2 separate regions of the Homo sapiens genome follow, and region 2 is reported to be linked to region 1. Evidence: microRNA targets listed by miRTarBase, many of them from high-throughput screens and not tested one by one. Region 1 holds a microRNA gene; the other region holds the end of a gene's coding sequence.
Evidence for each region. Region 1 holds the annotated microRNA hsa-miR-1247-5p (ACCCGUCCCGUUCGUCCCCGGA, at 2,601-2,622, shown strand). A microRNA usually pairs through its seed, bases 2 to 8, with sites in the 3' UTR of a target mRNA and lowers its output. Matches are read on the target gene's strand: a 7mer-m8 pairs with bases 2 to 8, a 7mer-A1 pairs with bases 2 to 7 and ends in A, and an 8mer does both.

Region 1 (4,272 bases):
CAAAACAAGCGGGGGAAACTACCCTGCCCACCCCTCCCCATCCACGACATCACTTCCCCTACCAGGGACAGGAAACAGACACAAAAGCAACAGGGAACCCCCTCTCCGCGCGCGACAGGTGGGTGCCAGGCAACTAGCTCAGCTGAGCTGAGAGTCTCCTGGAACCCAGCTGCGCTCAGGGCGCGCGGGCGTGGCCAAGGTCTCTGTGCAGCTGCGGGAAGCACCGGGCCAAAGCACTTGGCTGAGGGCACGCTGGGGAGGGGGTGTAAGAAAATGCTGTAGAGGCAAAGTCCTGGGGGCACACGGACAAGGGCAAGCCATATCCCGCGCTCAAAAGAGGATTTCCAGTGAGCCAGGCAGGTGTGAATGAGACAGTTACAGAAGCAGAGTCCCAGGGAGGTAGGGGAGATTGTTCATGTGGCTGAGGGTGCAGACTCAGTCTGAAATGGTGGCTCAGCACATCAGTGTCACTGGGGCCTCGCCAAGCGTGACTTGGTTTGAGGCGCTTGCACGTGGGCTTCGAAGGCTCGAAGGCCCAGCCCACCAAGTTCAGTCAATTGTCCGTTGGATGTTTACACCCTCCGGGGCCGAGCGCCGTGCAGTTGCTCATCATAGCGTTCCAACCAAGTGCGCAGCTCAGAGACCTGGTAGCCGTCGGGGCCACGGCCGCCCTGGTACATAATAGTGCCACTCTGGATGACATAGAGACGCTCGAAGTAGGCGCCATAGGCCGAGCTGCTGGAGTTGGCCATGGTGTCGAGGACCAGAGCGCAGCCGGGTGCACCTTGCTGCAGTACCCTCGCTGCGCTGACCCGGTCCTCCAGGCTCCGGTGCTGTGGGATGATGTAGGGAGAGTCCGTGGTGACCCAGCCGTCGGAGGGGTGCGCTTCCTCGATGTAGATGATGAGGAAGTCGACGTCGCGCTGGTACTTAGTGACCAGGCGCTGGAAGGCGCTCATGCGCGCCATGAACGGTGGTCAGGTGCAGCTGCCGAAATTGAGAACCAGCGGGCGGTTCCCTTGCGCGTAGTCGAGGATGTGCTGGCTCTGGAAGCCGTCGGGCAGAACCACCTCGGAGTTGGGCGCCGGACCGCCCTCGTGCGCCTGCTTGAAGAAATCCAACTTCTGGCCATGCCACACCGCCTTGAGCGACGCCAGGGTGCACAGGCGGTTGTCGTCGGACACGCAGATGGGCGGGTCATCGGGAGGCACCTCCTCGCCTTCACTGTTGAGCTCCACTTCGGGCTCGGGCTGCCCCCGGCGGCGGCGGCCCAGGAAATGCTTGCGGATACACAAGAAATCGAGAAGCCAGAGCATGAAGGCCGTGCCGAGGAAGCGCGGGAAGAGCACGAGGCACGAGGCGGTCTGGGCGCAGAGCCTCAAGGAGTGAAGCAGCAGGGAGCGGAGCATGGTGGCTGCAGGCCCCGAAGCCCCCTGGGACCCCTCGCCCTCTCCGACCACCAACCGCGACGTGGCCTGGCGAGGCATCTGGGCTTCAGCAGTGCAGGGAGTTCAATTTATAGCGGAGGCTTCAATTGGCGGGAGACTCCACCTCCGGCCCGGCCCGCCCCCTTGCAACTTGAGCCCGGAGGGATCACCCAGCAGCGCGGCCAATGCCCTAGAAATCTTGGGCTGAGGGCGGGCGCAGGCGGGCGGAGGGCGGAGCGGCCGGGCCTGGGGCCGGTGGGGGCGGGCCCGGGCCCCGCAGCCAGCTCTCGGGGGCGGGGGACTCCGGCAGCCGCTGCCGCTGGGGACCGGGAGCCCGACCAGGGACCTGGGCGTCCGCTGGGGAGGTCCTCCAGCTGGCGCGAGCGCTGCGCGCCGCCCTGGTCCCCGCCGCCTGGCTCCGGCCCGCGCCCCCCTCGCCGCGCACCTGAGCCGAGCTCCCCGGCGGCCGCCGAGCCGCGCCGGAGCTCCGGTTCGCTTCCCGCGCGCCGCCGCCAACGCCGCCCACGCCGCTGCCGCTCGTGCGGGGCCGCTGCCCAGGTGCCGCGGGAGGCCGGGTCCGCGGCCGCCGCTTCGGTGGCCCCGGCTCCCGCCCCACCGAGGACGCGGGCCAGCGAGGAGGCAACTTTGCGTTCCCGCCGCCTTCCTGGCTCGCCCGCGGGCGCCGCTCGCCTGCCGGAGCCCGCCCGCCCGCCTCCCGCGCGCGCTCACACTCGCGCCTCGCACACGGCCGCCCCCCGCACCGCCCCGCCACGCACACCGCGCTCCGCGCCCCCCGCCGCTGCCCGAGGCTGCCGCGCGCCGCCCCAGCCCGCGCCGCCCTGGCCGCGCCCGCCCCGTCCCATCTCGTTCCAGCGGGGCGCCGCGGTTCCTGGGTCAGCGGCCGCCGGGGCCGGGCTGAGAGGTGCGGAGGGCAGAGCCCGCGGGCGGGTTACCGCCGGGCGCCGGAGACCGGAGAGCTGGGGAAAGCGGCGCCGGCCCTGCGCCCCCAGCCGACCCGGGCGCGGGGCGCCACGGGCGTGGGGCGCGGGGCAGCGGGCGCGGGGCGGCGCCGGCCCCGGGCGGCTCTCCCACTAGGGGTAGCTGTTGCCTGAACGCCGGAGCGCTCCCCTCTCGCCGCTTGCCTCGCCCAGCGCAGCCCCGGCCGCTGGGCGCACCCGTCCCGTTCGTCCCCGGACGTTGCTCTCTACCCCGGGAACGTCGAGACTGGAGCGCCCGAACTGAGCCACCTTCGCGGACCCCGAGAGCGGCGGCGCGACTCACCGCGGAGGCGCCCGGACGCGTCAAGTGCGTACTTTCAACCGTAAATGGGTGCTGAGCGTTTAGGGGTGCGGGGCAACTCCCTAACTCGTGGGGCCCTGGCCGGCCCTGCCGCGGCGTCCGAGACCTTCTGATCCCTCGCTGCGCGCGGCGCGGGGTTGGCGACTTGGGCTCAGGGGCGGCGGGGCGGGGAGGTGCCTTGACCTAGGGACCCAGAGGCCGGGAGCAAGTCTCCTTTCGCCTTGGACTGCAGTGTCCCCCAGGGCAAGGCCTGAACCAGGTCGCGAGGGTCTGTCTCCCGTCTGGGGAGCTGAACTGCCCGAGACACTGTCGCAGTCGCGGGGACTTGTCTGGAGCGGCGGGGTCTGAGCCCAAGTCGGAAGCCGCCGCCGCCGCCAGCGTCCCGTGCGCCTGCCGCCCCGGGACCAGCCGCGAAACTTCTTCTCGGGACGGAGACAGCGCTCGCCGCCCGGGCCGAGGTAGGAGCTGGCTGGGCTCGGTAGAGCGCGGGCGAATCGCTTTCGGCAGCGAAGGAACGTGTCGGGAGAAGCCAACTGCAGGACCAGGGCCCCAGCGGGCGCGCAGAGACGCCTGCCTTGGGCGGAGGTCCCCCCCTCCGGTTTTCGTGGCTCTGGTAGGGCCCTCTGTCCCGTGAGCTCCTCACTGGACCTGAGGCTACAGGCTTCAGCAGGTCAAGCGCCCGAGTGTGCCTGGAGGATTGGCGGCGGGGTGGCATGAGAAGGTGGCCCCTCTTCTCCATCTCCCAGTCAGGCGATTTCTCTGCTGTCTGGGGCAGGGGCGCACACCCCAGGAACTTACTACGTAGAGGGAAGCCAGCCTGGTCTCTCCCCCTTGCGTCAGTGCTCCTAAGCTGCCCCTCACCACTCTGGGTAGGGGTCTTTCAGGTGGGCTAGGGAATTCTCCTTGGAAGTCCCCTTGTTTGCTCCCCTCCATCAGGGCACCTCTGAGTTAGCCAATCATCCTCTTTTCTGGCCTCTTTTTTGCGGGGAGGAGAGTAGAGAGAGAAGCCTCCTACTCGGCAGGTCTCTGAGAGGAGGTTTGGGGGGGCTTCTGAGGTTGCTCCTCCTGGGCAGAGTCAAGGGGTGTTGAGGGTTCCAACTTTTACTGGACAATCTCTCAAGCTCTGATTCCCTGATTTCTGGGAGGTGTCAGTGTAGGGCTTGTGTCCTGCCCCACCCACACAGCATTTGGTGCAGGCACATGGGATGGTTCCCCAAGCCCTTTTCCCACAGTTAGTTTCAGAAAATGCATAAGCCACCTAAGGCTGGGAGAGCCTTTCTGTGCTGGCTGAGATCTGGTGGCATGTGCATGCATATGTGTGCAAGTGTGTGTGTGTGTGTGCAAGTGTGTGTGCGCATGTGCATGTGTGTGGAAAGTATGGTCTGGGTGGCTGTAAGACTGGCCCCTCTTGTCCCCTCTGCAGGCCCAGCCCAATAGGAAGCACCTGATCCACACTCTTTCTAGCCCCAGGGATGCTCAGGAAAGCAGCCTTTCTTTAGGGCTGTCATCTGTTCTGGGGATCTGTTGCTGTTTCTTGGGCCCACAG
Region 2 (4,136 bases), not on the chromosome of region 1:
GGGCCCCAACTTTGCCCCGCCAAGGCTTGGCACACAGGACTCAGGATGCATCTTGTCACATTGGGCCTGGCAGGTGTCGCCCTAGCACTAGCTTTATCACTGTGGGAGCTTGGCCAGCCCCTTGACCTCTCTAAGCCTCGGCTTCTCCAACTCCAAACTGAGGGGTGAGGTGGTACATGAGACAAAATAGAAGCTCTCTTCCACATCTGTGGATCTCTGAATCTCTGAAGCATTTTTTTTTTTTAGATGGGGTCTCACTCTGTTGCCCAGGCTGGAGTGCAGTGGCACAGTCTCGGCTCACGGCAACCTCCGCCTCCTGGGCTTAAGCAATTCTTGTGCCTCAGGCTCCCAAGTAGCTGGAATTGCAGGTGCGTGCCACCATGCCCGGCTAATTTTTGTATTTTTAGTAGAGACGAGGTTTCACTATGTTGGCCAGGCTGATCTCGAACTCCTGACCTCAGGTGATCAGCCTGCCTCGGCCTCCCAAAATGCTGGGATTACAGGTGTGACCCATCACGCCCATCCTGAATCTCTTGCTCACCCATCTGATCCGTGGCAGACTGTCCTGAAACATCTGCTGCCCCCACCCCCCCAGCAGGAGGATTCGAGGTCCCATCCTGGGGAACTCGGACATGGCCACACTCACTTTGGCCAGTCACATGAGGGTGGAGGTGACAGGTGTCACTTCTGAATGGAAGTCTAAGGGACCGGGGAGTGGATGGTGGAGGATGCATGGAGAGAGCGCCTCTATCAGCCAAGTTTCCTGTGCCACTCGGAGGAGCACAGGGATCCTGCCAGCCCCGGATGAGCACAGGGAGTGTAAGCAACAAACTAATGTTGTGGTTGTGGCCCACGCAGATTCGGGGGTTATGTGTTACTGCAGCAAAGCCTCGCCCGTCCTGGCCTTCATCATCCATTTCCCTTCCCTGATCCCTCTGCCTGCCTCACTTCCTGTTCAGCCTGGGTTAGCTGCCTTGTCGCACCCAATGGTCAGACCTTCCATCTGGCTAGAAAGATTTAAATGAAGCAGAGAGGCAGAGATACAAGCCCCAATAGCTCATGTGGCCCATGGACAAAGGACCTGCTCTAGCTCCTTCCTGACCAAGTCCTGGGGCCCCTCAATGTGTGTCCTGCCCTATCGCCCTATTGCCTCTAGGGAATCTCTGTAGCCTTCCAGAAGACTCCTCTCTCTCTCTCTTTTTTTTTTGAGACCGAGTCTCGCTGTGTTGCCCAGGCTGGAGTGCAGTGGCACGATCTTGGCTCACTGCAAGCTCCCCCTCTGCCTCCCAGGTTCAAGCAATTCTCCTGCCTCCCAGATAGCTGGGATTTCAGGTGCCGCCACCACGCCTGGCTAATTTTTATAATTTTAGTAGAGACGGGATTTCACCATGGTGCCCAGGCTGGTCTCAAACTTCTGACAAGTGATCCACCCACCTCGGCCTCCCAAAGTGCTGGGATTACAGGTGTGAACTGCCACACCTAGTCCGGAAAACTCTCATTTTTTTTTTCTTTGAGATGGAGCCTTGCTCTGTTGCCCAGACTAGAGTGAAGTGTGTGCTCTCAGCTCACTGCAACCTCTGCCTCCTGGGTTCGAGTGATTCTTCTGCCTCAGCCTCCTGAGTAATTGGGATTACAGGTGCCCGCCACCACACCCAGCTAATTTTTGTATTTTTAGTACAGACAGGGTTTCACTGTGTTGGCCAGGCTGCTCTCAAACTCCTGACCTCAGGTGATCCGCCTACTTCGGCCTCCCAAAGTGTTGGGATTACAGGCCTGAGTCACCGAGCCTGGCCTCTGAAAACTCCCTTTTATCCTAAACTAGTAAGAGTGGGTTTCTTACATCAAAAAGAATTCTACTTCAGGTGTGGTGGCTGATGCCTGCAGTCCCACACTTTGAAAGGCTGAGGCGAGAGGATCGCTTGAGGCCAGGAGTTCAAGACCAGCCTGAGCAACGTAGGTAGACTCTGCCTATTAAAAAAAAAAAAATTAGCCAGGCATGGTGGTGCGTGCCTGTGGTCCCAGCTGCTCAGGAGGCTGAGGTGGGAGGATTTTTTTTTTTTTTTTTTGAGACGGAGTCTCACTCTTTCGCCCAGGCTGGAGTGCAGTGGCTCGATCTCGGCTCACTGCAAGCTCCACCTCCCGGGTTCACGCCATTCTTCTGCCTCAGCCTCCCAAGTAGCTGGGACTACAGGCGCCCGCCACCATGCCCAGCTAATTTTTTTGTATTTTTAGTAGAGACGGGGTTTCACCGTGTTAGCCAGGATGGTCTTGATCTCCTGACCTCATGATCCACCTGCCTCGGCCTCCCAAAGTGCTGGGATTATAGGCGTGAGCCACCACGCCCGGCCGAGGTGGGAGGATTGAGCCCAGGTCGAGGGTGGGTTCAGTAAGCTGTGACTGCGCCACTGTATTACAGCCTAAAAAACAGAGCAAGATCCTTTATTTAAAAATCAACAGTCGTGCGCAGTGGCTTAAGTCTGTAATCTTAGCACTTTGGGGAGACCAAGACAGGCGGACCGCTTGAGGTCAGGAGTTTGAAACCAGCCAGGCCAAGATGGTGAAACCCCGTCTGTACTAAAAATACAAAAAATTATCTGGGTGTGGTGGCGCGAGCCTGTAATTCTAGCTACTCTGGAGGCCGAGGCAGGAGAATCGCTCGAACCTGGGAGGCGGAGGTTGCAGTGAGCCGAGATCACCCCGCTGCACTCCAGCCTGGCCGACAGAGAGACTCTGTCTCGAAAAAACAAAAAACAAACCAAAAAAACCCACCCACAACCAGAATCCTAAGGCAGTGGTGTGCTGAAGCGGCTCGTATTGGCTCATGGGAGCTGACCTGTTAACAATTCAGGATCTCGCAGGCAGTTGTTTAATCACCTGTACCTTGAAATCCGGCACGGTGGGAGCATTTACATCATGGAAATTGACAAAAGTCATATAGGAGGACTTTAATTTTATTCCAGAGAGTTCCTTTACTGCATATGGATTCTGGGGCCATGAAAAGGTAGAGAAAACCAGAGAGCAAGAGCCACCAGATGGAGAAGACAAGAAGATATGAGAGTCCTAAGGCCCTGTCTGGGGTCCTCGGGGGTCCCCTTTCTCTGTTTCACAAACACAGCACCGTGCTGGAGCCGGCTCCTGAGCTGCTCAACCTCAGAACTAAAATGGCCTCGAGCCAGGTGTGGTGGTGCATGTCTGTGGCCCCAGCTACATATGAGGCTGAGGCATGAGGATCCCTTGAGCCCCAGAGGTCGAGGCTGCAGTGGGCCGAGATTGTGCCACTGCGCTCCAGCCTGGGTGACAGAGCCAGACGTTGTCTCAAAAAAAAAAAAAAAAAAGAAAAAAGCCTCATATCTGCCAGAAGTTGCTACACCCTTTCTTCTCGCAGAAGCACAGCTAGGGTTGGTCAGAGAGTTTATTGGGAGACACAGGAACCAGAAGGGGAAAGTCCCAGGTGTCTGTGGGGTGCATCTCCCCTTGGTGTGAGGTGTCCAAAATGCAGTAGGTGGCGCTCAGGCATCAGTCCCCCATAGGCAGCCACAGGGCCTTGGTCCGCGCCACTCGCAGCCCCAGCTCTGGGCCTGCCCCCTCGGCCTCCTGGTCCCAGGCCCGCGGGCAGCCCCTGCTCGCCCACACCGGTTTGAGGTTTCCTGCCGAGGCCCACTCGACAAACTGGGAACCCTGAGGGGAGGAAGAGACGGGGGTAAGCACTTCTGCAGGCTTGTTGCTGAGCACCTGCTTCCTCCGCGATGAAGACTGTTACTGACGAGGGGCTTCAGGCTGGACCCAGGCTCTGCAGCTACAATGCCCAGCTCCTCCCAAGCAGAACTTCCAGATGGTAGGGAAAAGCACTGGACCCAGTGGTTAGGGAATTTCCTCTCCCTTAACAGCCCATGTTGAAAGGAATGGGCCCCAAGGCTCTTGTCAACAAGTTCACATCTGTTACCAACAGGAGGTTTAAGAGAGTGGACGGTGGGGCGCGGTGACTCGCTCCTGTAATCCCAGCACTTGGGGTGGCTGAGGCGGGAGGATCGCTTGAGTTCAGGAGTTTGAGACCAGCCTGGACAATATGGCGAGACCCCGTCTCCATTTAAAAAGTAAAAATTGGTTGGGCACAGTGGCTCACGCCTGTAATCTCA

Region 2: miRTarBase lists ALDH16A1 as a target of hsa-miR-1247-5p. The part of its 3' UTR that is shown has no 7-base or 8-base seed match.

Annotation. Positions count from the first base shown.
Region 1 is chr14:101,558,712-101,562,983 of GRCh38, reverse strand. It overlaps MIR1247 (microRNA 1247), which reads left to right and starts at 2,562; the gene lies at 2,562-2,697. It overlaps DIO3 (iodothyronine deiodinase 3), which reads right to left and starts at 1,489. Exons shown (of 1, transcript NM_001362.4): 1 at 1-1,489. The coding sequence starts at 1,487. The coding sequence ends at 573. It overlaps DIO3OS (DIO3 opposite strand upstream RNA), which reads left to right and starts at 2,562. Exons shown (of 2, transcript NR_152588.1): 1 at 2,562-2,732.
Region 2 is chr19:49,469,848-49,473,983 of GRCh38, reverse strand. It overlaps ALDH16A1 (aldehyde dehydrogenase 16 family member A1), which reads right to left. Exons shown (of 17, transcript NM_153329.4): 17 at 2,934-3,678. The coding sequence ends at 3,517. Among named protein-coding and RNA genes, the nearest start is that of FLT3LG, 2.3 kb to the left of the region's middle.